Linked DNA regions of Homo sapiens. The protein of the gene in region 1 interacts with the protein of each later gene in a biochemical or structural test. Each region holds a gene or a part of one and is shown on either strand. Other genes may lie near its edges.

Region 1 (7,000 bases):
GTCAGACCTCATAATTCTTAGGCCTCATAAAGTTTACACTTCCTAATTAAATTTGGCATGTTAATAAAACCCAGAGGAGTGTAGGGCGGAGTGCTGCTGTGGAGCTTGGCCAACCTAACAGTGCTCCTCGATTTTTTGTGTCCCTGTACACGTGTGACAGGAAATGGGGAATGTTTTAGGAAGCCCAGGCACACTGGGCTGTCTAGTCCTGAAGCAGTATCACCTTAATGCTTAAAGGTGATTCCATAAATTAGCCATACGTGGTGGCGCTTGCCTGTATTCCCAGCTACTCAGGAGGCTGAGGCAGGAGAATCGCTTGAATCCAGGAGGCAGAGGTTGCAGTGAGCCAAGATTGTGCCAGTGCACTCCAGCCTGGGCAACAGAGCAAAACTCTGTCTCCAAAAAAAAAAAGAAGCAATTCTATATTGGCTGAGTGTACCTCTGGGTTTTCTTTATAGACAAGGATTGAGTGGCTATTCATTTTCTGCCACTCAATCCTTAACATTTTGCCAAAAGTTACATTTCATCAAAGCCTATTCTCAGAAGCCCCATAGATCATTTGTGGTGTGAACTTGGCCCTGTAGCTCCCTGGAATGGGTTCTCACCAGCCTGGCTCGGCGCCACTGCCTCCTCAGGGGCCCATTGATTCCTCCAGTGAAAGGGTTGGCATTTGAGAAAGTGCTTTGTGAACCGCTCAACACCGCGTAGACCCTGTTGCGCTTTAATACTTTGATCCAGCCATATTTTGCCAGTGTCTTCTGTGGGCCAGGCAGCCATTTTGGCAAGAGGGCTGCAGAAAGGACACAGGTGAGTCAAGGTGCGTGCAGGACTGGGGTACCAGCTTCTAGCAAATGTGTATTCAACCCCTGTGTGTTCAGTCACTGGAGGTAATAGCAGTGGATGAGACTTGTCAGTTCCCTGCCCCAGGGAGCTTACGTTTGAGAGGGCGAAAGTCCAGTGCTGGGGCTGGATGGATGGAATTAGCATCCCCACCCTGGGTTCAGAGAGGCCCAGCCAGGCCTGGGCCTCAAGTCTTCCCCAGCAGGCACTTGAACAAACTCCTGGTGGCAAAGGCTGGGTCTGGCTGTTTCTCATCTACATGGGCCATTATGATCTGCAAGCATTATGCCCAGGTCCATGCAGCAGATACATACATGTATGTCAGTTATGTTAATAAATAGGTAAAGGGAGAACTGATGAGGATGGTCAGAAAGGTTCCCCTGAGGAGGGAACTTGAATGGGAACCTGAACAAAGGGATAGCCAGGTAGCTACAGAAGAAAGAACTTTCCAGGGCAGGGAAGAGCAAACATCAAAGCCCCGAGTCAGGAGCATGCTTGGAATGTTGAGGAAATCGCTGTGTGGATGGTGTGGCCAGAGAGAGCAGGTCATGAGCCAGAGTGCTGAGAGGTGACCAGGTTAGGCAGGACCTTGACACACATGAGCAGCTGTTTCCACTTTATTCGAGGGAAGTGGGGCAGGGAAGCCACTGAAAGAGGCTTTAAAAAAAAATAGCTTTATGAGATAGAATTCGCATACAGTTCACCCATTTGCAGTGTACAATTCAGTGGCTTTGGGTACATTCACAGAGTTCCACAACCATCACCACAGGCAATTTGGGAACATTTTTATTATGCCAAAAAGACACCAACCCAAGGCCAGGCACGCACGGTGGCACAGTGGCTCACGCCTGTAATCCCAGTACTTTGGGAGGCTGAGGTGGGCAGATCACGAGGTCAAGAGATCGAGAACAGCCTGGCCAACATGGTGAAACCCTGTCTCTACTAAAAATAGAAAAATTAGCTGGGCATGGTGGCGCGTGCCGGCAGTCCCAGCTACTTGGGAGGCTGTGGCAGGAGAATCACTTGAACCCGGGAGGCAGAGGTTGCAGTGAGCCAAGATTGCACCACTGCACTCCAGGCTAGCCAAGATCGCACCACTGCACTCCAGGCTAGCCAAGATCGCACCACTGCACTCCAGCCTGGTGACAGAGAAACTCCATCTCAAAAAAAAAAAAAAAAAGGATACCAACCCTTCCAGTTTCCCCATGTGCCCCCCCAGCCCCAGACAACTGCTAATCAGCTTTCTGTTTCTATGAATGAGCCTATGCTGGACATGTCTGTTAATGGAATCTCACACTAAGTGACCTTTAGTGTCTGGCTTCTCTCAGCATCCTGTCTTCAAGGTTCATCCACATTGTATAGCATGGATGAGTACTCCGTTCCTTTTTATGACTGGGTCATATTCTGTTGTATGGTTGGACCACATTTTGTTCATCCATTCATCTGTTGGTGGACATACTAGAAAGTTTGGAGCAGAGGGCCGGGTGCGGTGGCTGATGCCTATAATCCCAGCACTTTGGGAGGCTGAGGCAGGCAGATCATTTGAGGTCAGGAGTTTGAGACCAGCCTGGCCAACACGGTGAAACCCCATCTCTACTAAAAACTCAAAAATTGGCCGGGCATTGTGGCAGGCACCTGTGGTCCCAGCTACTCGGGAGGCTGAGGCAGGAGAATCACTTGAACCTGGGAGACAGAGGCTGCAGTGAGCCAAGATTGTGCCACTGCACTCCAGCCTGGGCGACAGAGCGAGACTCCATCTCAAAAAAAAAAAAAGAAAGTAAGTTTGGAGCAGAGGTTAGCTGTGTAACATGGTTAGGGTTATATTTTTGAAGGCTGGGGAGGGGACTGCGGGTGAACAGTGGGAGCCTGGGGAACATCAAGGTGGCTGCGAGGTCACCGTGGGGAAAGGGGATGAAAGCGGGAGGTGAGAGACAAGGAAGATGGGGTCAGGAAGGCTTGTTAGGAGGTGATCTTCAAGGGGGCCTTAAAGGAGGAGAAGTGTGCCTAGCTGACGGGCCAGTGGGACACAGACCACCCGCAGAAAATGAATAGCATGTACAAAAGCTGGGGGCAGGAGAGAACGTGACCATGTGCATTGACGCATGGTGGGGCCTAAGGCCCTGTGTGCCTGGGGGTTGGTCAGCTGCAGGGTGTTGGGGAGCAAGGGACTCAGGCCTGCAGAGGGCTCTGTTGAGACCCACTCCGTACAACTGCCTGGGGTGGGGAGGCGGGTTCAGCTGGCAGCAAGGGACAAGAGCAGGGCTTTGCCACCCGCGCCCCCTGGGTTTGCTCTGCACTGCTCCCATCAGCTCTTGGAGAGGGAAAATATCTCCAAGTGTTTCCAGATCTGGATATTCCGACATCCTGCATGCCCAGCACCAGGCAGGGTCTCCGTAAGCCACAACAGCTGTCACCTGCACAGGTTGGTGGCGCCCAGCTCAGACACAACTTGGGAAATGGGCTGACAGTGACGTGCCTTTTTTCTTTTTTCTTTCAGGAATTGACTTTAAAATTAGGACCATAGAGCTCGATGGCAAGAGAATTAAACTGCAGATATGGTAAGAGTCATTGTTCTCTGTCATTCTCTCCACCTGGCAATGGCTTCAAGCCAGAAGCCCTTGGCCTTCTCCCTCCACCGTCCCTGTGACCTTGGCCTCCATTTCTTGGTGCCCAGTCCTGGCACATGGGGCTTTCTCCAGAAGCTCCTGGAGGTTTATACCCAGCCCAGAGAGCTGTCCTCTGCTGGCTGCAGGGCACCAGGGCCTACAGCATCATAGGCACAAAGCTGCCCAGCCCTGGCTAGCTCAGTGTTCCACAGTGGGCACCATCTGGGTCTGGCCTTCAGAGTGGGCTGCTTCTGTTGAACGGGAAGAGAGCCCTCTCAGTGCCAGGTGCTGGTGACGCCTGCAGGGACTGTGAGATGCCCCAGCCGAGAGTTTCCTTTTGAGCCTCTCAACCCACTCAGAAGCATAAAGGTCCAACTTCACTTCCTCTTTTCTCCCCTGGGGCAGGCCTGGCCTCCCTTCCTAGCGTACAGACCGAAACCCCAAACCGAAATTAAGCGGAGGGCCGGGCCCCATGTTGAGACCTGTTTCCATTCCTGAGAACTAAGGGTGACTTCCCATGCACATACAATTAGGGAAGTGGGGAGACTCCAAGTCGCCATCGCTGGCCTGATTCTAGTTTGCTGAGACTGAGTTCAGGTGGCGGGTATAGTGGGGTCCTGCCCTGCACACATGCCACTCGCACAGAGTCACTGGCCCTGAGCAAAACAAAGAGAAGTCACATTTAAGAGCATGGTGCAATTTCCCTGTCACCCAAACCAGGCAAGTGCCTTTGAGTGGGAGCAGTGTGCCAGGAGATGGGCCACGAAGTCATCCTCCCTCAAGTCTCAAAGTTTGACCGGTCACCCCCACTTGCCAGTTTCAGGGAGCCCCACAGCTACCCTTGACTCCAGGTGCTATTCACCTCTTCTTTTTTTTTCTTCTTTTTTTGAGACGGAGTTTCGCTCTTGTCGCCTAGGCTGGAGTGCAATGGCGCGATCTTGTCTCACCGCAACCTCTGCCCCCCGGGTTCAAGTGATTCTCCTGCCTCAGCCTCCCAAGTAGCTGGTATTACAGGCATGCACCACCACGCCCAACTAATTTTGTATTTTTAGTAGAGACGGGGTTTCTCCATGTTGGTCAGGCTGGTCTCCAACTCCCGACCTCAGGTGACCCACCCACCTCGGCCTCCCAAAGTGCTGGGATTATAGGCGTGAGCCACCACGCCCGGCCCTACTGTTCACCTCTTAATCTGACTTTGGGAGTCGGGTAGGTTTAACTTGCAGTTCATCCTGCAGACATTGGTAGTAAGTCAAGCTCTGGCTGCCTTGTAAGTTCCAAGCCATGGAAGTTTCTCCACTTCCAGCACGTTGGTGCCATGTCACCCTTTGTTCCCAAGTCCAAAGTGACACTGCATCAGCAAGCAGAAGTTTCACTTTCCTCCTGCCTTCCTGCTTCTGCTCTTAGCAATCGTGGTGAGGTTAGTGACTCAAAACTCTTCTAAGGACTGTAGTTGAAAAAAAAATGACTGGTTTTTTTTTTTGTTTCTTTGTTTTTTTGAGACAGAGTTTTGCTCTTGTTGCCCAGGCTGGAGTGCAGTGGCACGATTTTGGCTCACTGCAACCTCCGCCTCCTGGGTTCAGGCAATTCTTCTGCCTCGGCCTCCCAAGTAGCTGGGATTACAGGTGCCTGCCACCACGCTCGGCTAATTTTGTATTTTTAGTAGAGACGGGGTTTCGCCATGTTGGCCAGGTTGGCTTCGAACCCCTGAATTCAGGTGATCCACCCGCCTCGGCCTCCCAAAGTGCTGGAATTACAGGCGTGAGCCACCGCACCTGGCAAAAATGACTGTTTTTAACCACTCATGTCTCCTGCTGCTGGTGTCAGAAAGTCAGCTTAGCTCCAAGCAAGGTGTTTCTGCACAATCCAGACGTATAGAGCCCTCCGGGTCCCAGCAGGGCCGTGGGAGGAACCCTGGGCTTGGAGACAAAAGACCTGAGTCTTGCCCTGGCTCTGTCACCAATCAGTTAGGTCACCTTTAATTTTTTTTTTTTTTTTTTTGACAAAGTCTCACTCTGTCACCCAGGCTGGAGTGCAGTGGCATGATCTCAGCTCACTGCAACCTCCACTTCCTTGGTTCAAGCAATTCTCGTGCTTCAGCTTCCCGAGTAGCTGGGATTACAGGCACCTGCCACCATGCCTGGCTAACTTTTGTATTTTTAGTAGACAGGGTTTCACCATGTTGGTCAGGCTGATCTCAAACTCCTGACCTCAGGTGATCTGCTGGCCTCAGCCTCCCAAAGTGCTGAGATTACGGGAGTGAGCCAACACGCCTGGCTTTTTTTTTTTTTTTTCCTGAGACAGAGTCTTACTCTGTCACCCATGCTGGAATATAGCGGCACGATCTCAGGTCACTGCAACCTCCACCTCCCAGGTTCAAGCGATTGTTGTGTCTCGGCCTCCTAAGTAGCTGGGACTACAGATCCACGCCATCATGCCCGCCTAATTTTTGTATTTTTAGTAGAGATGAGGTTTCATTGTGTTGGTCAGGCCGGTCTCGAACTCCTGGCCTCAGGTGATCCACCCGCCTCGGCCTCTTAAAGTGCTGGGATTACAGATGTAAGCCACTGCACCAGGCCAGTTAGGTTACCTTTTTTTTTTTTGAGACGGAGTCTTGCTCTGTCACCCAGGCTGGAGTACAGTGGTGCAATCTCGGCTCACTGCAGCCTCCACCTCCTGGGTTCCAGCAGTTCTCCTGCCTCAGCCTCCCAGGTAGCTGGGATTACAGGCACGTGCCACCATGCCTGGCTAATTTTTGTATTTTTTGTAGGGACGGGGTTTCACCAAGTTGGCCAGGCTGGTCTCAACCTCCTGACCTCAGGTGGTCCACCTGCCTCGGCCTCCCAAAGTGCTAGGATTACAGATGTGAGCCACTGCGCCCGGCCAGTTAGGTTACCTACCTTTAAACCAAACACTAAGTACCCTTCAAGCCAGGAGCTGGACTGGGCATGGGTATGTCTTACCCAGGCATCACCTCCCGGGCAATAGGCCCTGTGTTCCTTGTCATGCAGATGAGGAGGGACTTTCCCCATCATTCAAACCAAGATGGCAGGCCTGAAAGCTTTTCCTGAGTCCCAGCCACCCTCAACAGCAAGAGCTATGTTCCTGAGCCACATGACTGGCTCTTCTGTGAACCAGAAACTCCAGGGAGAATTCCCTGGAAGCAAAGGTGCAGAAGAGGAGAAGGCGCATGGGTCAGGGATCCCATCATGGCTCTGCCACATCAAATGACCCCTCCAGGCCACAGTGTCCTTCCCTGTAATAATAGGGAGATTAGAAGGTGCTGCCTTAGCAGAAGAAGGTATCACAGTGGCTGAACGGTGAGAAAGCCAGGCATCCCGGGTAGATGCTCCTTGTCTCCTACTGAGGACAGTTATTTTCCTTTAATGTTGCTAATATCCCTTCTCTTCATGTTTAGGGACACAGCCGGTCAGGAACGGTTTCGGACGATCACAACGGCCTACTACAGGGGTGCAATGGTAGGGACTTTTTGTTTGGTTGTTTTTATCTGCTTTTTAAGTCAACATGGGAGCGTCACTGTGCATTGGTTACCGAAG
Region 2 (8,228 bases), on another chromosome or scaffold:
CTGATTTTTGCTTTGAGATTGCATTCCTGATGCCAACTTTGACCTAGTTGGAAGTACTTCCTCTCTCTTACTTTTTTTTTTTTTTGAGGCAGAGTTTCGCTGTGTCGCCCAGGCTAGAGTACAGTGGCGCGATCTTGGCTCACTGCAAGCTCTGCCTCCTGGGTTCATGCCATTCTCCTGCCTCAGCCTCCCGAGTAGCTGGAACTACAGGCGCCCGCCACCATGCCCGGCTAGCTTTTTGTGTTTTTAGTAGAGACGGGATTTCACCGTGTTAGCCAGGATGGTCTCGATCTTCTGACCTCGTGATCTGCCCTCCTCGGCCTCCCAAAGTGCTGGGATTACAGGCGTGAGCCACCGCTCCTGGCCTCTCTATTTTTTAAAAGTATGAGTCTCTGGGTGGAAATCTCTAAAGTTTAAAAGTGGAAATGTAAAAATGTTGTGCTTCTTGTTGGTAGGAAGGGGGACTGCACTGGGAGGAAGGGGTGTGGATTGTCAGATGTCTTGAGGCTTTTCAGGCTTCTCGCAAGATCAATAAGAGGCTGGAGAAAGTTACTGTGCAATGGGGAAGTGAACAGCTCAAAAGAATAACGGATGGCACAAATTAGGCTTCTGGTTTCAAGTTACCCATAGCCTTTTAGGTATGAGGTGGTTATTGGATTATGGAACTTTATGGAAAAGCCGTAGCTGAGTGCTATTTGTGTTGTACTTAACTAGTTTTCTACCAGGATGACTGTGCAGTCTGGAGAAACCACTGTGTAACATAAAAGAAAAAAGTGCTATTCTGTTTAAAAGTGTTTTGAAATGTTCAGAAAGGAAGAGGCCAGAATCTCTTAGAAGACAGACTTGGAAGGAGTTGGGCCCTTCAAAAGGTGGTAAATATGTGATTCTCATCATTTAATATATGTTAACTTATTTGAAACTCAAATTTGTACAAAAAGCTGACCAGCTTCTTTTTCTACTAAATTTGTCTCCCCAGCCTTTGAACATTGCAGTGACCTGGGGTTCAGTCCCTGGACTTTTCTCCATCTAAAATCTTCACAGAGGCTCTCATCCAGCTGCATGGCTTTGAAGAACATCTGTCTAGACTGTTGTCACTCCCAAATTTATGTTTGTTACCCAGGCCTTTCTTCTAAGCTGCAGCCTCATATATCCAATGACCTATTTGACATCTCTGCTTGCCTATCAGATAGACCTCTCAAATGTAACGTGGCCAAAACGGCACTCCCGATTGCCCTTGTATTCCCACCCTCTTCCCTCAGCACTCCCTGTCTCAGTAAAATGTCACCATCATCCATTCAGTTGCTCAAACCAAGAACCTAAGATCACCCTTGATTCTTCTTTTTCTATCACTGCTCTCCACCCAATTTAATTCATGAGGGAGTCCTGCTGACCTGATCTTCAGACTGTATCATGTGTTCTGCCACACGTCTCCATCTCCTCTGCCTGTCACCCTAGTCCAAGCCACCACACGTCTGCCACAAACATTCTTGCATAATGCTCAAGGATATATATATACACAAGTATTTTTGTGGGATAGCTTTCTAATAGGAGAATTGTTAGGTCAAAGGACATATACATTAAACAATTTAAATAGGCATCACCAGAGTGACATCTAAGAGGGTTTACCCTTTCACCATTGCGAGTGGTTTTCCTCCTGCCCTTGCTGAGGATGGATGACGCTTTTAATTTTTTCCAATCTGATAGGTGAAAAATAGTATCTAACTGATTTAACTTGGCATTTCTCTGATCACTAGTGTGGCTGAGCATCTTTTCATTTGTGCTAGCTATTTGTATTTTTCCAAGACTTGCTCCTTTATATCCTTTGCACATTTATCTTTTGGGTTATATATTTGATTTGTTTGTAAGAACACTATATTTATTAGTTATATTTACCCATTGCCTATTATATAGTGCAAGTTTTTTTCTCTCTAGTCTGTCATATGTCATAACTTTGTTCATGATGTGTACCCCTCTCGTAATCAGATAAAACCCACTATAAAACATTTAAAAAACACGTTCATTAGATTTGGCAATTAGGAGGCCAATGACAACATCAGTGCAGCAGGAGGAGAGAAGGCAGATCGTAGAGGGTTGGGCAGTGAGGACTGAGAAGGACTGATAAAAAATATGGTAGATACACATGGACATGGAGAGTGGGATGATAGACAATGGAGACTCAGAAGGGTGAGGGGTGGGAGAAGGGTAGATGATGAGAAATTTCTTAATGGGTACAATGTATGTTATTCAGGTTATAGATACCCTAAAGTCTCTGACTTAACCACTGCATATGTAACAAAATTGCATGTGTACCCCATAAATTTATATAATTAAAAACATGTAGTATATACATTGAAGAAGCTTGGCTATGATGGGAAGGAGAGAGTGTTCCTTATAGACAGTAAGGCACAGGGGATAAAAAGGCTGTTTTATTTAATTTTGTTTTACTTTAAATATAAGAGATAGATGAGCCCATTTATGTGCAGATGGCATACAGCTTGATGATGCAAGGTCCCCGAGAAAGTCAGAGGGTGGGAGTGCCAGAGTGAAAGAGGAGAAAAGACTAGCCTTAGAGAAAAAGTGGTGGCTCTTCCATTGAAACAAGAGGATTCACCAATCCTCTTGGTAAAAACTATGGAGAAGGAAGTACCTGTGGAGGGACAGGATTTTGAGAGAGCCCCTCCGCCCCCAACAAGAGAGTGAAAGGTTCACCAGAGAGTAAAGAAGGCAAGAATGGTGAAGGGTTGGAATAGCATTTGAGAGAGACGAAAAGAGGAGTTCTTTAGGGGCATATCATCCAGGTTATGTATGTGTATTTCAAAATATCATGCTGTACACCATAAATAGACACAATTTTTGTCAAGTATACCTCCATAAAACTGGAAAAAAGTTTTAAAATGGCTTGGGTAACTTGAATTTGTCTCTGCCTCAAGTCGCAGAACCCTGTATCCATTCTGTCTGGCAGCACTCATCAGACCAGGAACAGAGTGTGGACAATCTAGTATGGGGAATTTTTTCCGGGTGGCCGTGACAGAAATAGGGAGAGGGCTGGAGATTGGATGGCCCTGGCAGAAGAATAGTTGAAATGATGGACCACTGTGGCTTTCATATTCATATCTGTGACTATCTAAACCTAACTTGACCTTGAGTAATTTTTAAGAAGTAGAAAATTTCCATGGCATCTACACTGCTTCTTGTTTGTAGCTCTATCGATTCAGGCATCAGAATACCATTAGTATCAGTGTCTTTAAACTCATCAGAAAGCGTGATTTGATTTACTGAGGGCCTATGTTGTGCCATGCTCTGTGTTGATTTACTGAGGATTTACGTTGCACCAACTGAGAGCCTACAGTCAGGATCCTACAATGTAGATTTATCCATCTATCCATCCATCAACCCAGCTAGATGCTTGAGGTATGGCTGAGAAGAAGGTAGACAATGGCCATTTTTCTCCTGGAACTTATTTCGGCAGGGGAAGTGTATATTAAATATTGTATCACATAATTTTTTAATTACAATTGTGATAAGTTCTGTGAAGTTCAGTTTTCTTAGAAATCAGATTGTCACATTGCTTTTTAACAGGCCTTACTAATTTACATTTGCCAACAAAATATGAGAATATCTCTTAAATCCTTTTTAAAAACTGAAAATTGTCTTTCTGAAATTTTGCTGAATTAATAAGCAAACATAAAAAAATCTTTATTGCCAGTAAGAGTGAAACTTTTTCTTTTTGATGTGTATTGGCCATGTGATTTTTCCCCTTTAAGAATTATCTATTCACGCTCTCTGTCTATTGGATACTTACCTCTTCTTGTTTTTAATAGATCTCTCATTCCATGTTTGAAACCATTAGCTACACTTCTCTCCTTTCTCTCTTAGCCCTGGTGACCTTAAAATATTTTCCCCTAGTCTCTACGGCCATTCCCTTTTGATCTCCTGTGAAATTTTTTTCTTACCTAGAAGTGTTGCTGTGCTTAGGGATGGGACTACATTTTTATTACTTGACTCAATAAAAGGTAACATATAAATCTTCTGTTCCTGCTTATCCCACTCTCCAGAGGTAACAATGTTAAGATTGTATTTCTTTCTAGACATTTTTCCATTCATCCATGATCCAATCTGTCTAAAATGTAAACAAATAAAAATGGAATCATAATATATATGATTTGCAATTTTTTTAATTTAATATGCTTTCAGTGTCAGTATATATAGAACTACAGTACCTTCTTCTTTTTTTTTTTTTCTTTTTTCTTTTTATTGATCATTCTTGGGTGTTTCTCGCAGAGGGGGATTTGGCAGGGTCACAGGACAATAGTGGAGGGAAGGTCAGCAGATAAACAAGTGAACAGAGGCCTCTGGTTTTCCTAGGCCAGAGGACCCTGCGGCCTTCCGCAGTGTTTGTGTCCCTGGGTACTTGAGATTAGGGAGTGGTGATGACTCTTAACGAGCATGCTGCCTTCAAGCATCTGTTTAACAAAGCACCTCTTGCACCACCCTTAATCCATTCAACCCTGAGTGGACACAGCACATGTTTCAGAGAGCACAGGGTTGGGGGCAAGGTCACAGATCAACAGGATCCCAAGGAAGAAGAATTTTTCTTAGTACAGCACAAAATGAAAAGTCTCCCATGTCTACCTCTTTCTACACAGACATGGCAACCATCCGATTTCTCAATCTTTTCCCCACCTTTCCCCCCTTTCTATTCCACAAAACCGCCATTGTCATCATGGCCCGTTCTCAATGAGCTGTTGGGTACACCTCCCAGACGGGGTGGTGGCCGGGCAGAGGGGCTCCTCACTTCCCAGTAGGGGCGGCCGGGCAGAGGCGCCCCTCACCTCCCGGATGGGGCGGCTGGCCGGGCGGGGCGCTGACCCCCCCCACCTCCCTCCTGGACGGGGCGGCTGGCCGGGCGGGGGAGCTGATGACCCCCCCACCTCCCTCCCGGACGGGGCGGCTGGCCGTGTGGGGGGCTGACCCCCCCCACCTCCCTCCCGGACGGGGCGGCTGGCCGGGCAGAGGGGCTCCTCACTTCCCAGCAGGGGCGGCCGGGCAGAGGCGCCCCTCACCTCCCGGACGGGGCGGCTGGCTGGGCGGGGGGCTGACCCCCCCCACCTCCCTCCCGGACGGGGCGGCTGGCCGGGCGGGGGGCTGACCCCCCCACCTCCCTCCCTGACGGGGCGGCTGGCCTGGCGGGGGCTGACCCCCCACCTCCCTCCCGGACAGGGTGGCTGGCCTGGCGGGGGCTGACCCCCACCTCCCTCCCGGACGGGGTGGCTGCCAGGCGGAGACGCTCCTCACTTCCCAGACGGGGTGGCTGCCGGGCGGAGGGACTCCTCACTTCTCAGACGGTGCGGCTGCCGGGCGGAGGGGCTCCTCACTTCTCAGACGGGGCGGCCGGGCAGAGACGCTCCTCACATCCCAGACGGGGCGGCAGGGCAGAGGCGCTCCCCACATCTCAGACGATGGGCGGCCGGGCAGAGACGCTCCTCACTGCCTAGATGGGATGGCGGCCGGGATGAGGCGCTCCTCACTTCCTAGATGGGATGGCGGCCAGGCAGAGACACTCCTCACTTCCCAGATGGGGTGGCGGCCGGGCAGAGGCTGCAATCTCGGCACTTTGGGAGGCCAAGGGAGGCGGCTGGGAGGTGGAGGTTGTAGTGAGCCGAGATCACGCTACTGCACTCCAGCCTGGGCACTATTGAGCACTGAGTGAACGACACTCCGTCTGCAATCCCAGCACCTCGGGAAGCCAAGGCTGGCGGATCACTCGTGGTTAGGAGCTGGAGACCAGCCCGGCCAACACAGCGAAATCCCATCTCCACCAAAAAAATACGAAAACCAGTCAGGCGTGGCGGCGCGCGCCTGCGATCGCAGGCACTCGGCAGGCTGAGGCAGGAGAATCAGGCAGGGAGGTTGCAGTGAGCCGAGATGGCAGCAGTACAGTCCAGCTTCACCTCTGCATCAGAGGGAGACCGTACCTTCTTCTTTTTAACAAAGGCACAATATTCCCTAATATGTGTGTACAATAACTAGTCAGTTTCCTTTGATGGATGTTTATGTTCTTTAATTTTTTTTTTTTTGCTGTTTCAAATATTGAGCATCCTCAGAATATATATTTGTGAATTTACTTGAATATCAGCAGAATAAGTTTCTCAAAATGAAATGGCTATGTTAAAAATATGGTCAGTGGTACTAAAGATCCAGAGAAATCTAGGAAGACCAAGAACTGTCTATTGGATTTAGGAAGTTCTTGGTGACCTTAGAGCAATTTCAGAGAACTGTGAGGCAGAAAGCTAAACTATGGTGGGTTGAGAAATGATTGGAGAGATGAGGAAGTGAAGGCAGTGATTATGTACAATTCCTTAGAGAAATCTGTCTGGCTTTGAAGAGCAGAGAAAGGGTAGTAGCAAGGAAGGAGTTGAGATTGAGGACCTGTTATTTATTTATTTATTTATTTATTTAGGAAGGACTTGAGTTCCTTTAAAGGCTGGTGGGAAGGAGGGACTAATTAATAGAGCAAAATCCTTGGAAGGCAAAGTCCTTATGCCAGATGGGAGGGGATCCAGATTGAGGTAGAGGATTATCCTCAATAGGCATAGATGAAAGTAGGTTCATAGATTTGGCGGCAGGAACTTGTCTGATGGTATTTCTATTTCTCTATGATATAATAGTTAAGGCCAACCTCTTAGAGCAGGGGTTAAGATGGGACAAGGTTTGAGTTAGATATTTGTGGTATTTGAAGAAGGTTTGAAATAGTTATTGTGGAGAACAGGAGAGCAGCCTAGGGAAGCATAGTTGCAGTGCCAGGCAGGGTTAAGATGAGCTTGGTGACCAAGAATTCATATGGATAATAATCTACCAGAGTGTGATTTTTTTTTCTCCAGTAGATCTCAGGAGTCCTTGTGCATGCATAAAGTATAACAGTTGGGCTTAGAAGAGCTATGGTTTTTTAAATCAGATATTTGCAGTGAAATTATGCATTATTGAGGATATTGACAAGAGTGCAGTTGAAACAATAGAATTGGCTGGGTGCGGTGGCTCACACCAGTAATCCCAGCACTTTGGGAGGCTGAGGCGGGTGGATCACCTGAGGTTAGGAGCTCGAGACCAGTCTGGCCAACATGGTGAAACCCCATCTCTACTAAAAATACAAAAATTAGCCGGGCATGGTGGCGCACACCTGTAATCCCAGCTACTTGGGAGGCTGAGGCAGGAGAATCGCTTGAATCCAGGAGGCAGTGGTTGCAGTGAGCCAAGATCATGCCACTGCACTCCAGCCAGAGCAATAGAGAAAAAGTCTCAGAAAAAAAAAAGAGAAAGAAACAATAAAATTTAAATGTTATTGGGAAGGAAGTAAAGATGGGAAGGAGCTGAGGAGGTGAAAGCAGAAGGGTCTATGGAAGACTGCCCCCATCCAAGAAATCTGAGAACAGGAATGGGGCTAGTTGGGGGGCTCATTGGCTGAATAGGCTAGAAGCACAGCAGGTTGTGGTCAGAGAGGGGGTGTTGAATCAGTGATATCAAAGGTGGAGAAGTCCTAGATGATAAGCTCTTGGGTGTGGCTGAATATGATATATGGTATTCTTGATGCCAGCTCATTCATTCAACAAATATTTATTTTGTGCATATTATGATCCAGGCAGTGCTCTAGGCACCAAAGGTACAGAAATGAACAAAACAAAGTCCCTTCTGTCATACAGCTTACAATCTAGTGGGGGAGATTATTTTTATAAACTAAAAGAACATCCTTATTGATGTGCTGATTCCTGTATGTGTAGCTTTATTTGTAACTAATGATAATACCAGGATCAAATATTTACATATATGGGGGCTAAGAAGGTCCATCTAGGCATTTTGAGTATCTTGCTTTATCTCAAGTTATACTTACTGAATTATGAAAACTCATACCTCTTTTCCCCTTAGAACTTTTTAAGGTATTTTTACTTACTATGTCAGTATTGAAAATAAACAAATATATACAAATCTAATTTGAATATTTCATTGGTTTTAATTTTTTATACTGTATTTTTTAAAAATATTAGGATATTGCTTCAAGCTGTAGACCAGATGTTGATAATGCATGTACTAATCTTGCTCTAGGGATTTGATGTAATGTGTAAAGTAATTATGGTTAAGCAGTTTAGGAGGGAAAGAGGGCTTGTAATAAGTTAATATTTTATGTTTATTTTTATATTATTCTCCAATTTATTTTATTATTTATACCTACCTTT
Region 3 (8,228 bases), on another chromosome or scaffold:
TGGCTGTGTGGCAGGGACTATGTGAGGCAATTTGCACACATCTCATTTACTCCTCACAACAACGCTTTGAGTTAAATACAGTTGATCCTTCAACAACATGGGTTTGAACTACACAGATCCACTTATATCCAGATATTTTCAACCAAATGCAGATGGAAAATACAGTATTCACAGGATGTGAAACCCACGTATAAGGAGGGCCAACTGTGGGACTTGAGTATGCGTGAATTTGATTATACACAGGCCATGCCAGAATCAATCCCCCACAGATCTCAAGGGACAACTGTATTTCCCATTTAACAGATGAGCAGATGGAGAACAGCAAGTTGAAATAACTTATTTAAGAGCATTCAACTAGGAGGAGAGCTGAGATTCCAATCTTAAGTTGGCTTAACTCCCAACTCTGTGCTCTTTCTACTACCCCACAATACCTCTATAATTCTATAGAACTTGATGAAATATACCTTTAGATAACTTCTTTTAGCCCATCTAATTTCTAGTTTGTACTTGCAGGCTGCCCCTTTTTCTTCATTTGAATTCTCTTAATCCATTTTGAGAGGGTATCTTTCCTCAAACACTAACCTCTTTGGTTAGATCAGGTATGCCTGGCTTTTTTGTTTACATTTCTTTTCAAAACCTTCAGATTTTTTTGTTTGTTTTTGTTTTTTGTTTTTTGGTTTTTTTTTTTTTTTTTTTGAGACAGAGTCTCGCTCTGTCACCCAGGTTGGAGTGCAGTGGCACGATCTTGGCTCACTGCAAGCTCCGCCTCCTGGGTTCACGCCATTCTCTTGCCTCAGCCTCCCGCCCAGCTAATTTTTTGTATTTTTAGTAGAGACGGGGTTTCACCATGTTAGCCAGGATGATCTCGATCTCCTGACCTTGTGGTCCACCCGCCTCAGCCTCCCAAAGTGCTGAGATTACAGGCATGAGCCACCGCTCGCAGCCAACCTTGGGATGTTTTTAATACTCCATACACATTAATGCAGAGCTTCTAGTGGGATATTTACATTTTTTTTCAGGCTTCCTGTGTATTTATGTATATCTTTAATAAAGATATGCCTTTTGAGTTTTTAATGATTTTTAAATTATACAGCAATGACAAGTGCTTTTAAAAAAATTAAAAGGAAATTTAAGCAGAATTGACAGATAAGGCAGAAGTTCTTCAATCCCTGTTCTGTCTCCTACTCCCAACTTTGCCTAAACCCCCATTCCCCAGCCAGGCCACTACCCTTAGGAGTTTATATCTTTCTAGACCAGTGCTGTCCAATAGAGCTTTCTGTGATGATGGAAATGTCCTGTATCTGTGCTGTCCAGTCCAGTGGCTTCTAGCAGCAGGGGGCTATTGAGTACTTGAAGTGTGGCTAGTGCAACTGAGAACTGAACTTCTAATTTAATTTAATTTAAAGTAATTTAAATTCAAATTCCCTATGTGGCTAGTCACTATTGTACTGGACAGTGCAGTTCTAGACCTTTGTATATGCTTTTTTGTTCACTCATAGACAAAATACTGATTTGTGTGTGTCTCTATATCATAAACGGTCTTATATGTATGTGTTGGTCTGCAACTTGATTTTTTTTTTTAACTCAGCAGTGTGTCTTGGAGAACCTCCCATCTTATTACATAAAGACCTAGCTCATTGTACTTTTTTTCAAATTCCTAATTTTGTCAGTAATTTCCTTTACTAAAATGGATGTGTCAGGTTGTGAAATTCTTTGGGGTTCCCCCCCTCCTCATTATCTTTGATTTGCCATTAAGTGCTGTGATCATGATAACCCGCTGAGAAAAAGTTTGATTTTATTGAGTAATCACCCCATGTTTTGGATTCTTGGGCATGCTATGATTAGAGGCTTTAAAAACCACACTATATTTTCACCACCATTGGCACCAATGACTGTTAACAAAGGAGCCAAGTGCACCGTGGCCAATTAATTTCAGAAGACTTTCTGTGGGCTGGCTGAGATAGAGCTAGGATAGGGTTCCAACCCTGCACTTGGTACTGTGATCTGTTGCATTGGTTCTCAGACTTCAGTGGATGTAAGAATTGCTTAGAGAGCTTTAAAAAAAGTGTGGATGCATGTGTCCTCACCCCTAGAGGCTGTGATTAGTAGACCCAGGCAGCTGTGCTTTTAAGACATACTCAAGTTGATTCTGTCACATATCTAGTATATTGGAAAGAGTCTTAAACTAGTCCAGATGTCACCTTTGGTATTCACTGTAGCAGTGAGCAAGTTTGTTGATTGTTTTGTATCTTAATGTTCTCAACTATCGGAACAAAAATATTCCTTGCTTTGGTAGCCTTCCAGGTTGTGAAAATAAAAAGACATGTGCAAAATACTTTTGGAAATTAAAAGTTGCAAAGTTTTGTAAAAGTATAAAATTCATCTTAAACTAATGCTATACTATGGACCCTGGTGATGGTAAAGTGATTGTTTGATCCTCGGTTCTCTAAGAGTTACAGTTCAAATATGTGAAAAACTTCCCCAGTCTGAGATACTTGACTCAGCTTTGATGTTCTTATTTTCAACATTTTAAAAAATTTTTATTTCACTTCAAGTTGTGGGATACAAGTGCAGAACGTATAGGCTTGTTACATAGGTATGTGTGCCATGTTGGTTTGCTGCACCTATCAACCCATCATCTAGGTTTTAAGCCCCACGTGCATTAGCTATTTAACCTTAATGCTCTCCTTCCCCTCGCCCCACTACCCCGAGTGGCCTGGTGTGTGTTGTTCCCCTCCCTGTGTCCATGTGTTCTCATTCTTCAACTCCCACCTATAAGTGAGAATATGCGGTGCTTGGTTTTCTGTTCCTGTGTTAGTTTGCTAAGGATGATGGCTTCCAGCTTCATCCATGTCCCTGCAAAGGACATGACTTTTTTTATTTTTTGAGGTGGAGTCTTGCTCTGTTGCCCAGGCTGGAGTGCAGTGGTGCAATCTTGGCTCACTTCAACCTCCGCCTCCCGGGCTCAAGGGATTCTCCTGCCTCAGCCTCCCAAGTGACTGGGATTACAGGCACCCACCACCATGCCTGGCTAATTTTTTTTTTGTACTTTTAGTAGAGACAGAGTTTCACCGTGTTGGCTGGGGTGGTTTCGAACTCCTGACCTCTAGTGATCCTCCTGCCTCGGCCTCCCGCAGTGCTAGGATTACAGGTGTGAGCCACTGTGCCCAGCCTGATCTCATTCCTTTTTATGGCTGTATAGTATTCCATGGTGTATATTTACCACATTTTCTTTATCAAGTCTTATTATTAATGGGCATTTGGGTTGGTTCCATGTCTTTGCTATTGTAAGTAGTGCTGCAGTAAACATATGTGTGCATGTGTCTTTATAGTAGAATGATTTATATTCTTTTGGGTATATACCCAGTAATGGGATTGCTGGGTCAAATGGTATTTCTGGTTCTAGATCCTTGAGGAATCGCCACACTGTCTTGCACAATGGTTGAACTAATTTACACTCCTACCAACAGTGTAAAAGCGTTCCTACTTCTCCACAGCCTCACCAGCATCTGTTTCCACATCTTTTTAGAACCTTTGCTGCATGTATCAATTTTTTTTGACATGAATTTTTGTGAAATTTCCTAGTCTAAAAAAGAAACCGATATCTCAAGTTAAAATCTGTTAGTTATGTTAATTTTGGCATTGGTTTGTATGAAGTTTTAATATTTAAAAAAACACAGCTATATCAGGAAGCTGAAAGTGCTGTGTCAGGTGGAAAATTTTTTTATCAGTGGAGATGTGTTTATACGTTGTCATGGTTTTACTCTAGTCTAGGACATTTTGTTTCAGCCATTTTCTAAAATGGCTGTAGGTTCCATTTATTAATATATCTCTGCTATTATGTAATCTGAGCAGTGATATTATACTTCTTGGTATTGTACATAGAATCTAATAGAGTTAAAAGCTTTTTAATAATATTTGCTGCCACCTCACCAAGTTATGATTGTTAGAAACAGTAATTGCTGTGTTTTGACACTGTCATTTTGTACAGTGCAAGCAATCATTTTTACCACAATTATCACATTTTTTCCACTACCAAATAACTTAACAATGAAGCAAGAAAATATTCTTCCCAAATATTTATTATTACCAAGCTTCTTAACGTAGGGGTTTAACTTTTACAGGACGTTAGCCAATTAATCTTACCTTTACCTTAAAGCGTGTGCTTCTATAATGCTTTGTTCAATTTATGTTTGCTTTAGTGACCTTAAAAATTGTTAGAGACTCTTGGAGGTATAAAAGTTGAGAACACATAAAACTAAAGCAAGGATCTGTTTTCTTTCAGGTGCAAGCTGTGGATGAAGCAAGATATAGAGAGTGTTTGAGGATGTTGTTTGCACCACAGTTTATTTTAAATAGTTACTGTAATGACCAGTTTTAAATTGTTAGATAATCTCCAAGGGAGATGAGCTAGAAGGATATAAGACTGAAAAGAGGATACATTTTCTTTCAGGTGAAGGTTGTGGATGAACGAAGGTACCGGAAAGTCTTTGAAGATAGTGTACGCATCATGGACAGAATGGAAAATGACTTCCTTCCTTCCTTAGAACTCAGCAGGAGGGAGGTGAGCAAAAATACATGATCTCCCTGTCTACTGCTCACTGTGGTTAGCACAGAAGAAACTGCTACTTAGAAAAGGCTACATAGCAACGTGGTTAAGCCCATGTCGCTGGAGTCAGACTGCCTCCATTCCAGTTGTAGCACGGCTGTTTAGTAGATGTATGACCTCAGGCAAGTATCTTACCCGCTCAGAGCCGCAGTTTCCTTTCCTGGATTAAGGGGTAGTTGTAAGGATTACATGAGTTAATACATGCAAAGCTCTCAGAACAGCACCCGGCACATAGTAAGCCCTCCGCTGTTAGATGCTCTTATTTAATATTTCAGAGTTGCTAGTTAATTTATATCTCAGAAACCAGGACTTGGTCACAGGATGAATACTCTGAACCAAGGTTGGGTTACCCTCTTAGGATCCTAGGAATGATCAGAGTAGCCTGGAGAAGTAGCAAGAGCCACCTAACTCCTTCTCTGCTGGTGTGAGTATAATAATACATGCAAGTGGATGTTGTGAAGTTGGTTCAGTTGGTGAATGTCTATGGCATTTGCACACCTGCTTAACAATTACCTTACTCCTCATATCCTCTATGGAATAATCCAACTGACTTACTTCCCCTACTAGTGATGCATGTTTGTGTCTGTCTGTTATTCCCCAGTTTGTGTTTGAAAATGTGAAGTTTCGGCAACTACAAAAGGAGAAGTTCCAGATCAGCAACAATGGACAGGTTCCCTGCCATTTTTCTTTCATCCCTAAACTTAATGACAGCCAGTACTGCAAGCCATGGCTTCGGGCTGAACCTTTTGAGGGCTACTTGGAGCCAAGTGAGTTTTCCCTTTACCATTGTCTCTGCTGGTGATGTCATGACTCCCATCCCCTTGGTTTAACTTTCTGTTTTCTAACCACATGTCTCTTACCTTTACTGTCATATTGGTGATACCTCTGGTGTGTGTCCTGTCTCTTCCCCCTCATTGCTTAATGATTTTTTTAGAGGACACTTTTCTGTTGGTTCTTATACTCTTTTTTGCTTTCCCACTGGAGGTTTTCCTATTACCATGTATCATCTCTTACATTTCAGATGAGACAGTGGACATTTCTCTTGATGTGTATGTCAGCAAAGACTCTGTAACCATCCTGAACTCGGGAGAAGATAAGATTGAAGATATTCTCGTCCTTCACCTGGATCGAGGCAAAGATTACTTCTTGACTATCAGTGGAAATTACCTCCCAAGTTGTTTTGGCACATCCTTAGAGGCTCTGTGCCGTATGAAAAGACCAATCCGAGAAGTTCCTGTTACCAAACTCATAGACTTGGTAAGAACTGTCCCAAGACATAAACCTCTTTTACATTTAATTTTCACAATACTTAAGTGACGTCCTCATTATCTTTGTGCTTTCTGTCTTCTTTTGGCCACGGGGGATGTCAAATGATAAAGAAGAATGTTACTTTAGCACTGTTTTGATTAGATTAAGCCTAAGGGGAAAGAGGGGGGACTAATCTGCAGTTGGCTCTTGTTGTGAGTACAATACATAATACTAAGCTCACCAAATAAGATTAAAGACTCCCCTCTCAAAGATATAATGCTTGTTTGTTAAGCTCTTCATACTCTCAAGTCACTTTTGTATAAATTAGCATGTACGTGAGGTATGCTAAGTGGGGCAGGCAGAATTATCCTCATTTGAGCATATGAGAAAACTGAGGCACAGAGACATTGACGTGCCCAGAGTCAAATACCATCAGTTAGTAACAAATCTAGCACCCAGATTTCCTGGCTCCCAGTTTAGTATTCCTCACTAATACCACATTATATCTAATCAGAGTAAAACTTTGCTATTTATGGAAGCATAGAACTATCCTGGAACCCTGGAGTACCTGAATCAGAATCCCTGGGGGTGCTTATTACAGGTACCCTCACTTCTGGCAATGGAATCAGAATCTCAGGATATGGAGCCTACAGATCTGCATTTTATCCGCATTCCAGATGCTTATAATGTACATTGAAATTTGATACTTACTTAATGTGATGTGCTTAAGAAAGAAAAGGAGGTTGATTTTCCCACCTCTCCCTCAAGCCAAGCTATAATATTAATGTTTTTATGAAGGAAGTACTTACTATCTTCAGTAACATAAGTTGATTTAGTAATAAAGTTCATTGTATTAAGAAATTTCCTTCTAAATGAAAATATTGTTGGATTGTATGCAGAATCTCTTTGGGCTACAAAAGTATATTCTTGGTTTTTTTACCAAAGAAAATTAGGTGAGGTGACAGCATACGTTATCCTTACCATTAGTATTCACATGGATCCTTTAGGCCTAGCCAGAGCGAGTGATTGTATCTAGCAGGGAGGTCTAGACCAGCAGGCAGGCTGCTGGCTTGTCTGAGTCCGATCTGTTCTGTTGCCATGGAATTGTTTTAGCTGTGACTCAGATAGCAGATTAAAACACTGAGTCCAGCCCCGGCATTCTTTCTTGGAATTATACTTATTTCCCCAGAGCCCTCATGACTGAGTATATTACCTCTGTTTGAGAGAGAACCATTTTCTTCAGAAATTCATATCCTACCGTTCTGCTGTTTTTCATGATAATTGTTTTTCTCCTAACATTATATTTCTGTCTTTTAGATTTTAGTATTTCACCTTTTAGAATACATTTTGGATGATGAAGTTGTTTTTCTTATTTCTCCTACCCCCTTTCCTTCATCTCAGACATTATTTCCCAGCTTTCTTTGTTTCAGCTTTTTATTATGAAAAATGTCAAATGTGCAGAAAAATGGAAAGAACAGTACAACACACCCCCACATGCCTTCTGTACATATATACACACAGATGTTTTTTGCTGTGTCATGTAAAATTTAGTGGTAATATGTCACTTCACCACTGAACACTTCAGCCTGCATCTCTTAACAAAAAGGGCACACTTAAGCACAATACCATTATTATGTATAAGAAAACTAACAGTAATCCATAGTATCATTTAACATTCGGTCCATATTCAGATTTCTTCAGTTGTCCCAAGAATTTCTGTTATACCTTTTTTTAAACCAAAATCCAATCTGGGTTCATATAGTATTTGGTGAGGTCTCTGAAGTCTCTATTGGAGTAGTACAGTTCCTACTTTCTTTAGTGACATTGACTTTTTTAAGAGTCCAGTACAAATGTCCAGTCAAGGGTCAACCATTTCCTAAATTTTTCTGGTTGTTTCCTTCTTGTTTTTTTTTTTTTTAAACTTATCCCATTTATACTCTCTCCTTCCACCTTCATGTAAACAGGAACCTACCCTTATTTTTAGTCAGAGTCAGTGAAGATATTAGAATATCTTTGCCATTAATATGAAAAACTGCAAAGCCATTAATATGAAAAACTTTGCAGTTTTTCATATTCTGGGATTGGCCAGAAGAGGCTCAACCCTCATAAAGTTTTTATTTTATGTAAAGTATACTATCAGGTAATTTTACCATGTTTGCCCATGAACAGAAAGGAACCAAAATCATTAGAGGAATGAATGGCTCTTTGGGAAGCCTTTTTCCTTCTTTTTGTGCACAAGTGATTGAGGGTTAAAATAATAGAACCCTGATCATTTTTAATTACAGAATTTCTGAGTTTTTATTAAATTGTATGTGTGTGGACATCATTTTTCTTTTAAAGCTTTTATTTTGTAGGATTTAGGGTTCTTTTC
Region 4 (8,228 bases), on another chromosome or scaffold:
TAAAAATTATTAGAATATTCATTTCAAATTATGTGTGATGTTATCATATAACATATTATAGATTAACTCAAATTATTCTTAACTGTTACTTAACTATGACAAAACAACTTAGAACGCTTTGCTAATACACAAGATAGTATAAGGATAAAAATTCTTTATAGTACTAGCTCATAAAGAGTGTTCTATGGAATAGTAGTGGATGTCATTTAATAACTATAAATTCAAAATAAGCATTGTAAATATCAATACCATTCAATTTTTTTTTGTTTTTTAAACAAGTTGTAAGCCTACCCTATGGTAAATGGATATGGTAACACAGCATAATTTCCTCAAAAAATTACTTTTGTGATATACTTTTAAAGGATTATATGAATATATACATAATTATAGATGAATGTGATGCTGTGTGTCATTGTATCACCAAATCTCTGTCCAATCTGTTAACAGACTCTTAAATAAACCATTTTTCTCAAGTTGTTACTGGCCTGTATACTGTATTACTTGTTTTTCAGCTTTCCTTGGTACATTCTTAAATTTCTGCATTCCGCCACCATGCTATCACCCTAATGGATCAACCTTTTTTGTTTTGCTCCATTCTCTCTGTTGTAAATCTGAAATTGATAATTTGTTTGTCTCAGAAAATATTATTTTTCAAGTTCTAGCGTATTGCCTACAAAAACCAAAAGAATTAAGTGTCTGACACTGTGAGGTTCAGCAAAACTGTGCATATATTTTGCTACCTGATTTTTTGCCAGCAAATGAGTGTTTTCTATTATAAATATAGTATATATTGCTTAAAAATTTGGAACAGAAAAGAAATTACTCCAATTAGGATGCCACCTAAAGTATAAGCATGTAGCTGTACTTTGAGAACACTAAATTGCATGCAGGTTTGTAGTGACTAGGTCTTCTTGCCTTTACTGAAGGAGCAGAATGAAGTCACAGATAATGGATAACCAAATCCATTTTGTGGTAAGAACTTCCTTACTTTCAATGTCTTGAAGAGATGAAGTATGTTACCAAAGGAGATTGGGTTTTTTAATATTACAGATGAGTGACATAGATTGTTTGGGAGTAAGTTTTTATATGTAAGTTTTTATGTTTTTAAACACATACTGACAACTTATGACAAACCTTTGGAAAGTTTTAAAACTCTGTTGAAAGGTTGTGCAAGCTGCTGATGGAATCTGTGAGCCTTTCTTGTTTCTTATCACGTTTTTTGGCAGAGCACATTTCTTCCTTCCCACCAACAGGTTTTGCCCTTTTTTTTCCCATTAAGATTCCTCCTGAGATTGGCTGTCTTGAAAATCTGACATCTCTGGATGTCAGTTACAACTTGGAACTAAGATCCTTTCCCAATGAAATGGGGAAATTAAGCAAAATATGGGATCTTCCTTTGGATGAACTGCATCTTAACTTTGATTTTAAACATATAGGATGTAAAGCCAAAGACATCATAAGGTTAGATAATTTTTTTCTATTTGGTTTTACTAAATTTATTTCAGATTTTCTACTCTCTGTGACTTTGATGGACATATATTGTTACTATTTAGGGAAAAATAAATAGTAATATTTGGCATTAATATGCTGTGTGTCATTTGCCTTTCATTTAATGAATGTGTTTCTGTGGTGCCACTGTAGAGATTTCTCATTCTTCTTAGCCAGACTAATGTTGAGAGCGGCTTCTCCTCCTTCTGTTTCTTTTCAGTGGAGTAGACTCTAAAAGAAAATAAGTATTGCTATTTGGTCTCTGGTTACCAATTACACAATCTAAAGAAATACAGCACAGTATAATAACTTCTCACACTGTATTTCATATAGCAACTAGTTAACATATGCCTCTTACATCTTAAAGCATTATAGCTACTGACATCATGTGAAATTACTAACTTCTATTTTGCCCATTAGGATGAGTAATCTACTCACCTTGATCAGTTTTGAAAGCACCAAAACTTCTCAAGTATCACTGTTTCTGGTCTTTACACTTTAAGCACTTTAAATATCTTTGGTAATGGATTTTATCCTCCTTTTTGTTCCCTTTCAGCACATCGGTCTTATTACTTTCTCATAAAATCCTTTGCTCCCTTTTCCACAGTTACTGTATTAACGTTGCAGACCTCAGCTCTGTCATCACCTCTCAACTTGACTGTAATATCCACCAAGGCAGAGACCATGGCTGTGTTCACTCACTATTCAAATCTTGGCACCCAACACAGTGCCTGGCATACAATTAATAGTTGTTTAATTACCAGTGATTTATACTTACTCATTCTCTTCTGCCTAAAATCTCTTAAATTTATATTTAACTTCATCTGTTTTTATGAGGAAGGATTTTGTTTTCTGAACTCCTGAGCTTGATTTCATTTTAAAGGAGTTTGTTATCTTTTGTGCTAATTGTGGCTACCCTTCATCCTACCCAATTATTTTTCTCTCTTGAAACTGGAAAAGATGGTCATATAAAAATTGGTTCAGTTCTTACTAAACATTTAGTAGAACTAGCTTTCAGTGTATTATACTGTATTATCTAACTAAATATTTTTAATATTTAATATTTAATTTAATATATAACTAAATATTTTTAAACATGTTTAACATTTTCAGAAAAGACAGAAAGACCTAGAGCAGATTAGAAATTGTAGGCATCATTTGCTTTTTGAAGAAAGACATTTTTTCAAATAGTGGTGCATTCTTAAGAAATAAATCAAGAAAGGTAATGTTGCTTTTTGGTCATATCATCAGGAATGTTGGTCAGATTCTTATTAGTTACAGGAATGAATTGATCACTACTCTGATGTAAAATTCACTTATGATTTAGTCTTTTTCTCTAATTTGAAACTGTGGCAACATTTTAACATATTTCAAAATATATCTTTCTCTATCCATTATATTTTTGATAACACTTTGACTCTACTATTAGTTTAAAGGTGGTTTTTTAGCTACCTAAACACTTCTATTTCATTCAGGTTTTACATTAAGATCATTAGGAATGAAAGCTAACATCTGCTGATAGTATAATAGTTTATATTTATTTATGATGTTATGTGATCTCACTATCCATATATACTATTATATGCATATGTGATATACATGAATATATAGCTATACATCATATATACCATATATGAATATATACACACACATATATAATGTAACTAATATGACCCTATTATCAAGCTTTAACAGTATACATATATCTCTACCTTGTTTCTATGTCATATGGACTTTGTGAAATTTTGAACTTTATAATTTATAGGGTTTTTCTTTTCTTTTCTTTTCTTTTTTTTTTTTTTTTTGAGACTGAGTTTCACTCTTGTCACCCAGGCTGGAGTGCAGTGGCCTGATCTTGGCTCACTGCAACCTCTGCCTCTTGGCTTCAGGCGATTCTCCTGCCTCAACCTCCCAAGTAGCTGGAATTACAGGCACCTGCCACTGTTCCCGGCTACTTTTTGGATTTTTAATAGAGACGGGGTTTCACTATATTGGCCAGGCTGGTCTCAAACTCCTGACCTCATGATCCGCCCACCTCGGCCTCCCAAAATGCAGGGATTACAGGTGCGAGCCACCGCACCTGGCGTATAATTTGTAGGGTTTTTCATACTATTTAAAGACATTAGAATATGTATACATGTATGTATATGTGTGTATATATAGAGGTATATATATATTGCATATCGTATTCTAATTAGTATTGCAAACATATTTTGGCCTTTTGATTATTTCTGGTGATAGTGTAACATGTTTTCTTTGGTGATTTTACCAAACATTATCAACTACCCTAAAATCTCTAGCAAAATATATGCATTAACAGTACTCTGAAAGACATGTACATTATTAGTTATATGAGATATGCACTCTTCTGGATACTATATTTTAGAATAGTGTGACATGTAAAAGAACTCACCTAAATCTCAAGTATACTTTTAAGCAGTTTATTATTTTATTTTTATCTTTCAAATACTAGGTTTCTTCAACAGCGATTAAAAAAGGCTGTGCCTTATAACCGAATGAAACTTATGATTGTGGGAAATACTGGGAGTGGTAAAACCACCTTATTGCAGCAATTAATGAAAACCAAGAAATCAGATCTTGGAATGCAAAGTGCCACAGTTGGCATAGATGTGAAAGACTGGCCTATCCAAATAAGAGACAAAAGAAAGAGAGATCTCGTCCTAAATGTGTGGGATTTTGCAGGTATTTCTTTCTATAGAATTTTAAAATTCACTTTTACCATTTGTTTGGAACAGGGATTCAAAAACTGAGCTTTCTGTTCTAATATCCAGAAACCTGGTAGACTGTATGGAATTATTCCAAAGCCCTTCATTTCTCCTAATTTTACCCTTGCCTCCAGAATGGAGAAGAACATGGAGGGATATGTTAGGAACAATTTGGTGCTAGGTACTTTGATCGGTTGCTGACAAATATGCTAAAAGTGGTCAATCCTAGTAAAAACCCAGAATAGTTCTCTAAACATGGTCTGTTGTTTTTCTCTTATTAGTATGCTAAATAATAAATAGTATTATTCTCCCAGATTTTTTTTTAAAAAAGGATTCTTGCCTGTCGTTTGAAAGATTAAAAAAATTTGTCTCTAATCTTTATTTAGGTCGTGAGGAATTCTATAGTACTCATCCCCATTTTATGACGCAGCGAGCATTGTACCTTGCTGTCTATGACCTCAGCAAGGGACAGGCTGAAGTTGATGCCATGAAGCCTTGGCTCTTCAATATAAAGGTGATTTGTTCTGATCATTTGAAAATAGAAAATAATTCATGTGTCTGTGTGCGTGTGTGTGTGTGTGTGTAAGTTAATTTATTTTGGGCAAACAATTGCTTCAGTCTCTTTAAATACTTTCTTAAAAGAAGCACTAAAATTTTGAATTGGGAAACTTTCCGAGTAATGAAGTCATAACATGAAAATTGTATGTTCCATGTTGGTGAATGTTATTGGTAACCTGAAACTCTTTTATGCTGTAAAACTTGAAAATATATATGTTCAACTGTTTTTTAATTATATTATTTCTTAAATGAAATCTAAATTTTTCTAATTTAAAATAAGCTATATTAAAGAAAAGCAATCTATATATATATATCTCATCAACTTTGTACTCAGGGGCCATTTAGTGTGAAATTCTTCAGATTGTATCCTTTAAGTGGTCCCAGATTATTATGCTGTTACATCTGGAATCTCCCTTTTGTTGCTTTTCTATCTTTTCCTTTGTTGTCTTGTTGTCAGCTATTCCTTCAAACACTATGGCTTTTTAGAATGGAGACTAAACTGCTGCTTGCATGATGCTGCAATGAACTCTTCTGTGCATAAAGTCCTTAAAAAGCTTGTGTCAGGACATTTAACCATGTAATTGGCTGCATACATGCTTGTTTTGTAATTTGGGTATTTTTTAATGTTTCTTTTATTAACTTTTTTACAGCTAGCCAACGTGAGCAAATAGTACAGTGGCAGTCATATTTGCTTGAGTGGCTTTTATTCTTTCATTGTAGACTCCAAATTGGTTGACTTTAAAACGAATTTAGAAGATTAAATTCACAGATAAGGAAGAGAAAATATAAACTATATGACGTTAATTTGATATAATTTGTGGGTTTATGAAATGCTTATTTTATTTAGGAGTGAATAACTCATCTTAAGGCATGAAGATGGGAAAGGAAAACTATACCACTACCGTTATATATGCCACCTAAAAGGGTGAAGAATTGGGTTAAGAAAGGCCAAAAATGACTTTTTAAAATGTCGTAAGGTTACATTTTTTTCTTAGGTTTAAGGAAAAAAGGACAGTTGTTCTTTTCTTCTTCTGAAGTCTGCTAGTTTCTCTTTTCCATTCAAGTGAATGTCACGGAAAGCAAATATCAACAGGAATGTGAGCAGGCCCAGTTTGAAAGCAAACACAAGAGGGTTTTGTGTCTTTCCCTCCAGGCTCGCGCTTCTTCTTCCCCTGTGATTCTCGTTGGCACACATTTGGATGTTTCTGATGAGAAGCAACGCAAAGCCTGCATGAGTAAAATCACCAAGGAACTCCTGAATAAGCGAGGGTTCCCTGCCATACGAGATTACCACTTTGTGAATGCCACCGAGGAATCTGATGCTTTGGCAAAACTTCGGAAAACCATCATAAACGAGAGCCTTAATTTCAAGGTAACATGGTAGGCTGGTAGAGAAATGTAATTTATTGATTCTCAACTGCCTAGAAATGTCAGAAATTTTGAGAAGTGAGCAACTCACTTAAAATTGTGGGTTTTCTTTCCTTGTTGCTGTTAGCATTATTAAAGTCCTTTCCATTTTAAAATTATTTATGCCAGACTTCATTTCTAATTCATAGAAATGGGAACAAAAAATAATTAGAGGAACCTGAGAGAAACTAAGAGACCGTTTCTGGGATACTGAGAAAATGTTTCTGAGAGAGAATCTGAGAAAATGTTTTTGATGCCTTTTCTGATTCAACTTCTTATAGTGGTGATTCAATCACAAGGGTAAAGGTGAATACTGAGGTCTTGGGATCATCTTTCTTCTATTATTCTTTAACTGTTATTTTTCCATTTCCTCTTTTCTTTTGGAATTCCTGTTTTATGGACATCTTGATCTTTTGTGCCACTCATTCATGAATTTTGTCACTGTGATTCCCATTCCAATTTTTTTCCCTCCGTATTGTGAGGCAGCTGTTTTATTTAGTCATGAAGACCACTAACTTGGTTTTCAGCAGTGTCTCACTAATTACTTAGTTCATACAAAATGGGCTTTTTATTTTAGGAATTATGTTTTAAATGTTTAAAGTTATCTTCTCGTAAGCCAAATTTTTATAAAATGTAAATAAATCAGTTATCAGAGAGAACACTTTTTTTTTTAAATACTTGGCAGAAAAAAGAAATCTTCACTGGGTACTACAGGGAGTGTGGTGTAAACTGTACTGAAAAATACCCTTGATAGTTCCATATGACAAACATAATGATGAATTTCACTTAGTCTGTCTTGGCTTAGCTCAATAGCACTAATGATCAAGATACTGGCTGATAAATAGAGTCCTATTTGGCCTGGGCAGTCCCAGCATAATTATGTAATAGTGTCCCACTATATTCTCAAAAGCATTCCAATTTGGATGATAAATTATATAGTCACCTTGGTTATAACTCCATGCTGGCCAGTTAGCTTAGTTCTGTTCCATTTATATAGATTATGTGTGCTTCACTCCAAAACCTAATGAGCCATTTGTAAAAGTGATGGCTTTTGCGGTGCCCAGGGAGAGAATTTGTATGTTTGTATCCTTCAACACACATTTATTACAGTTATTAAAAGGTTTTATTGATGATAGATGGTAATGTCATGTAAAAATGACATATTATTTATTTGTAGACTTTCCTATTCTCTTGTTGGACATGTAATTAGAAACTAATATGACTTAAAGAAAAACAAATACACAAAATTTATTCATCCAATTAATCTCTTAATCCAGGTGTTTTTTTTTTCTGAGACTATACCCATACTTCAATAACTTTGTTGTTACTGAGAATATTTTGAGTTTCCCTTTTTGTCATTGTTGTCAGAGAATGTATCATATCTTTAAAAAGACTTGTTGGAGGATGAGTTTGTTTTGAAAAGGCCTGAATTTAGTTGATGCAAAGTCACAGATAAGATGGTTCATTAAGCTGTATTAATACTGCTTTTGTCTAATAGATATCATTACCAATAAGTCAGACTAGTTTTTCTTTTGGCACTTATAAATCACCTTTGAAGACAACTTTTTACAAGGAAATAAAACAAATGCTTTGAGAAATACCAGTATTATTGAAAGAAAAGTATATATTGCTAATGGATGCAGCATTCTGGCATAATGGTTTGAAAACTCATTTGATTGCTTTGTAGAAGAATGACTCTTTCAGATGACCCAGGGCCTGTGAGCCTGCCAGAACTTGAAAATTCTTTCTTCCCTGAGGTGCTTCAACCTGAATTCAAAGAGCAGCTTTTAATCTATTAGAGATCATTTTTTGTCCTCTCATTTATTTTTCATATTTGCCTTTGATCTTAGCTCTTCTCTAATCTTTTTCTGTCTCAACCTTATTAACAGGTGTCTGTGCAGACACTTTTAAGTTTTGTTTTTTGGCTCAGCCTGTCAGTTAACTGATAATCATGCTGAAAGGAGAAGCAGGACAAAACAGAGTTCAATGCTGACAATACTCCTTTTAATCTTGTCCAGCCCATTAGCAGAGCAGGCATCTCTGTGGGCC

What was found.
Region 2: the proteins of RAB8A (region 1) and SYTL4 form a complex in vitro, tested with the Homo sapiens proteins (2 studies listed by BioGRID).
Region 3: the proteins of RAB8A (region 1) and OCRL form a complex in vitro, tested with the Homo sapiens proteins (2 studies listed by BioGRID and IntAct, with this or other methods).
Region 4: of the proteins of RAB8A (region 1) and LRRK2, one has a biochemical effect on the other in vitro, tested with the Homo sapiens proteins (2 studies listed by IntAct).

Annotation. Positions count from the first base shown.
Region 1 is NC_000019.10:16,114,889-16,121,888, forward strand, and holds part of RAB8A (ras-related protein Rab-8A), read left to right. Parts: intron 1-3,337; coding exon 3,338-3,398; intron 3,399-6,861; coding exon 6,862-6,922; intron 6,923-6,950; exon of another isoform or gene 6,951-7,000. UniProt on the Homo sapiens protein: The small GTPases Rab are key regulators of intracellular membrane trafficking, from the formation of transport vesicles to their fusion with membranes.
Region 2 is NC_000023.11:100,720,894-100,729,121, reverse strand, and holds part of SYTL4 (synaptotagmin-like protein 4), read left to right. Parts: intron 1-8,228. UniProt on the Homo sapiens protein: Modulates exocytosis of dense-core granules and secretion of hormones in the pancreas and the pituitary. Interacts with vesicles containing negatively charged phospholipids in a Ca(2+)-independent manner.
Region 3 is NC_000023.11:129,570,687-129,578,914, forward strand, and holds part of OCRL (inositol polyphosphate 5-phosphatase OCRL), read left to right. Parts: intron 1-4,453; coding exon 4,454-4,564; intron 4,565-5,210; coding exon 5,211-5,376; intron 5,377-5,630; coding exon 5,631-5,866; intron 5,867-8,228. UniProt on the Homo sapiens protein: Catalyzes the hydrolysis of the 5-position phosphate of phosphatidylinositol 4,5-bisphosphate (PtdIns(4,5)P2) and phosphatidylinositol-3,4,5-bisphosphate (PtdIns(3,4,5)P3), with the greatest catalytic activity towards PtdIns(4,5)P2.
Region 4 is NC_000012.12:40,304,506-40,312,733, forward strand, and holds part of LRRK2 (leucine-rich repeat serine/threonine-protein kinase 2), read left to right. Parts: intron 1-1,279; coding exon 1,280-1,461; intron 1,462-3,961; coding exon 3,962-4,191; intron 4,192-4,600; coding exon 4,601-4,728; intron 4,729-5,925; coding exon 5,926-6,144; intron 6,145-8,228. UniProt on the Homo sapiens protein: Serine/threonine-protein kinase which phosphorylates a broad range of proteins involved in multiple processes such as neuronal plasticity, innate immunity, autophagy, and vesicle trafficking.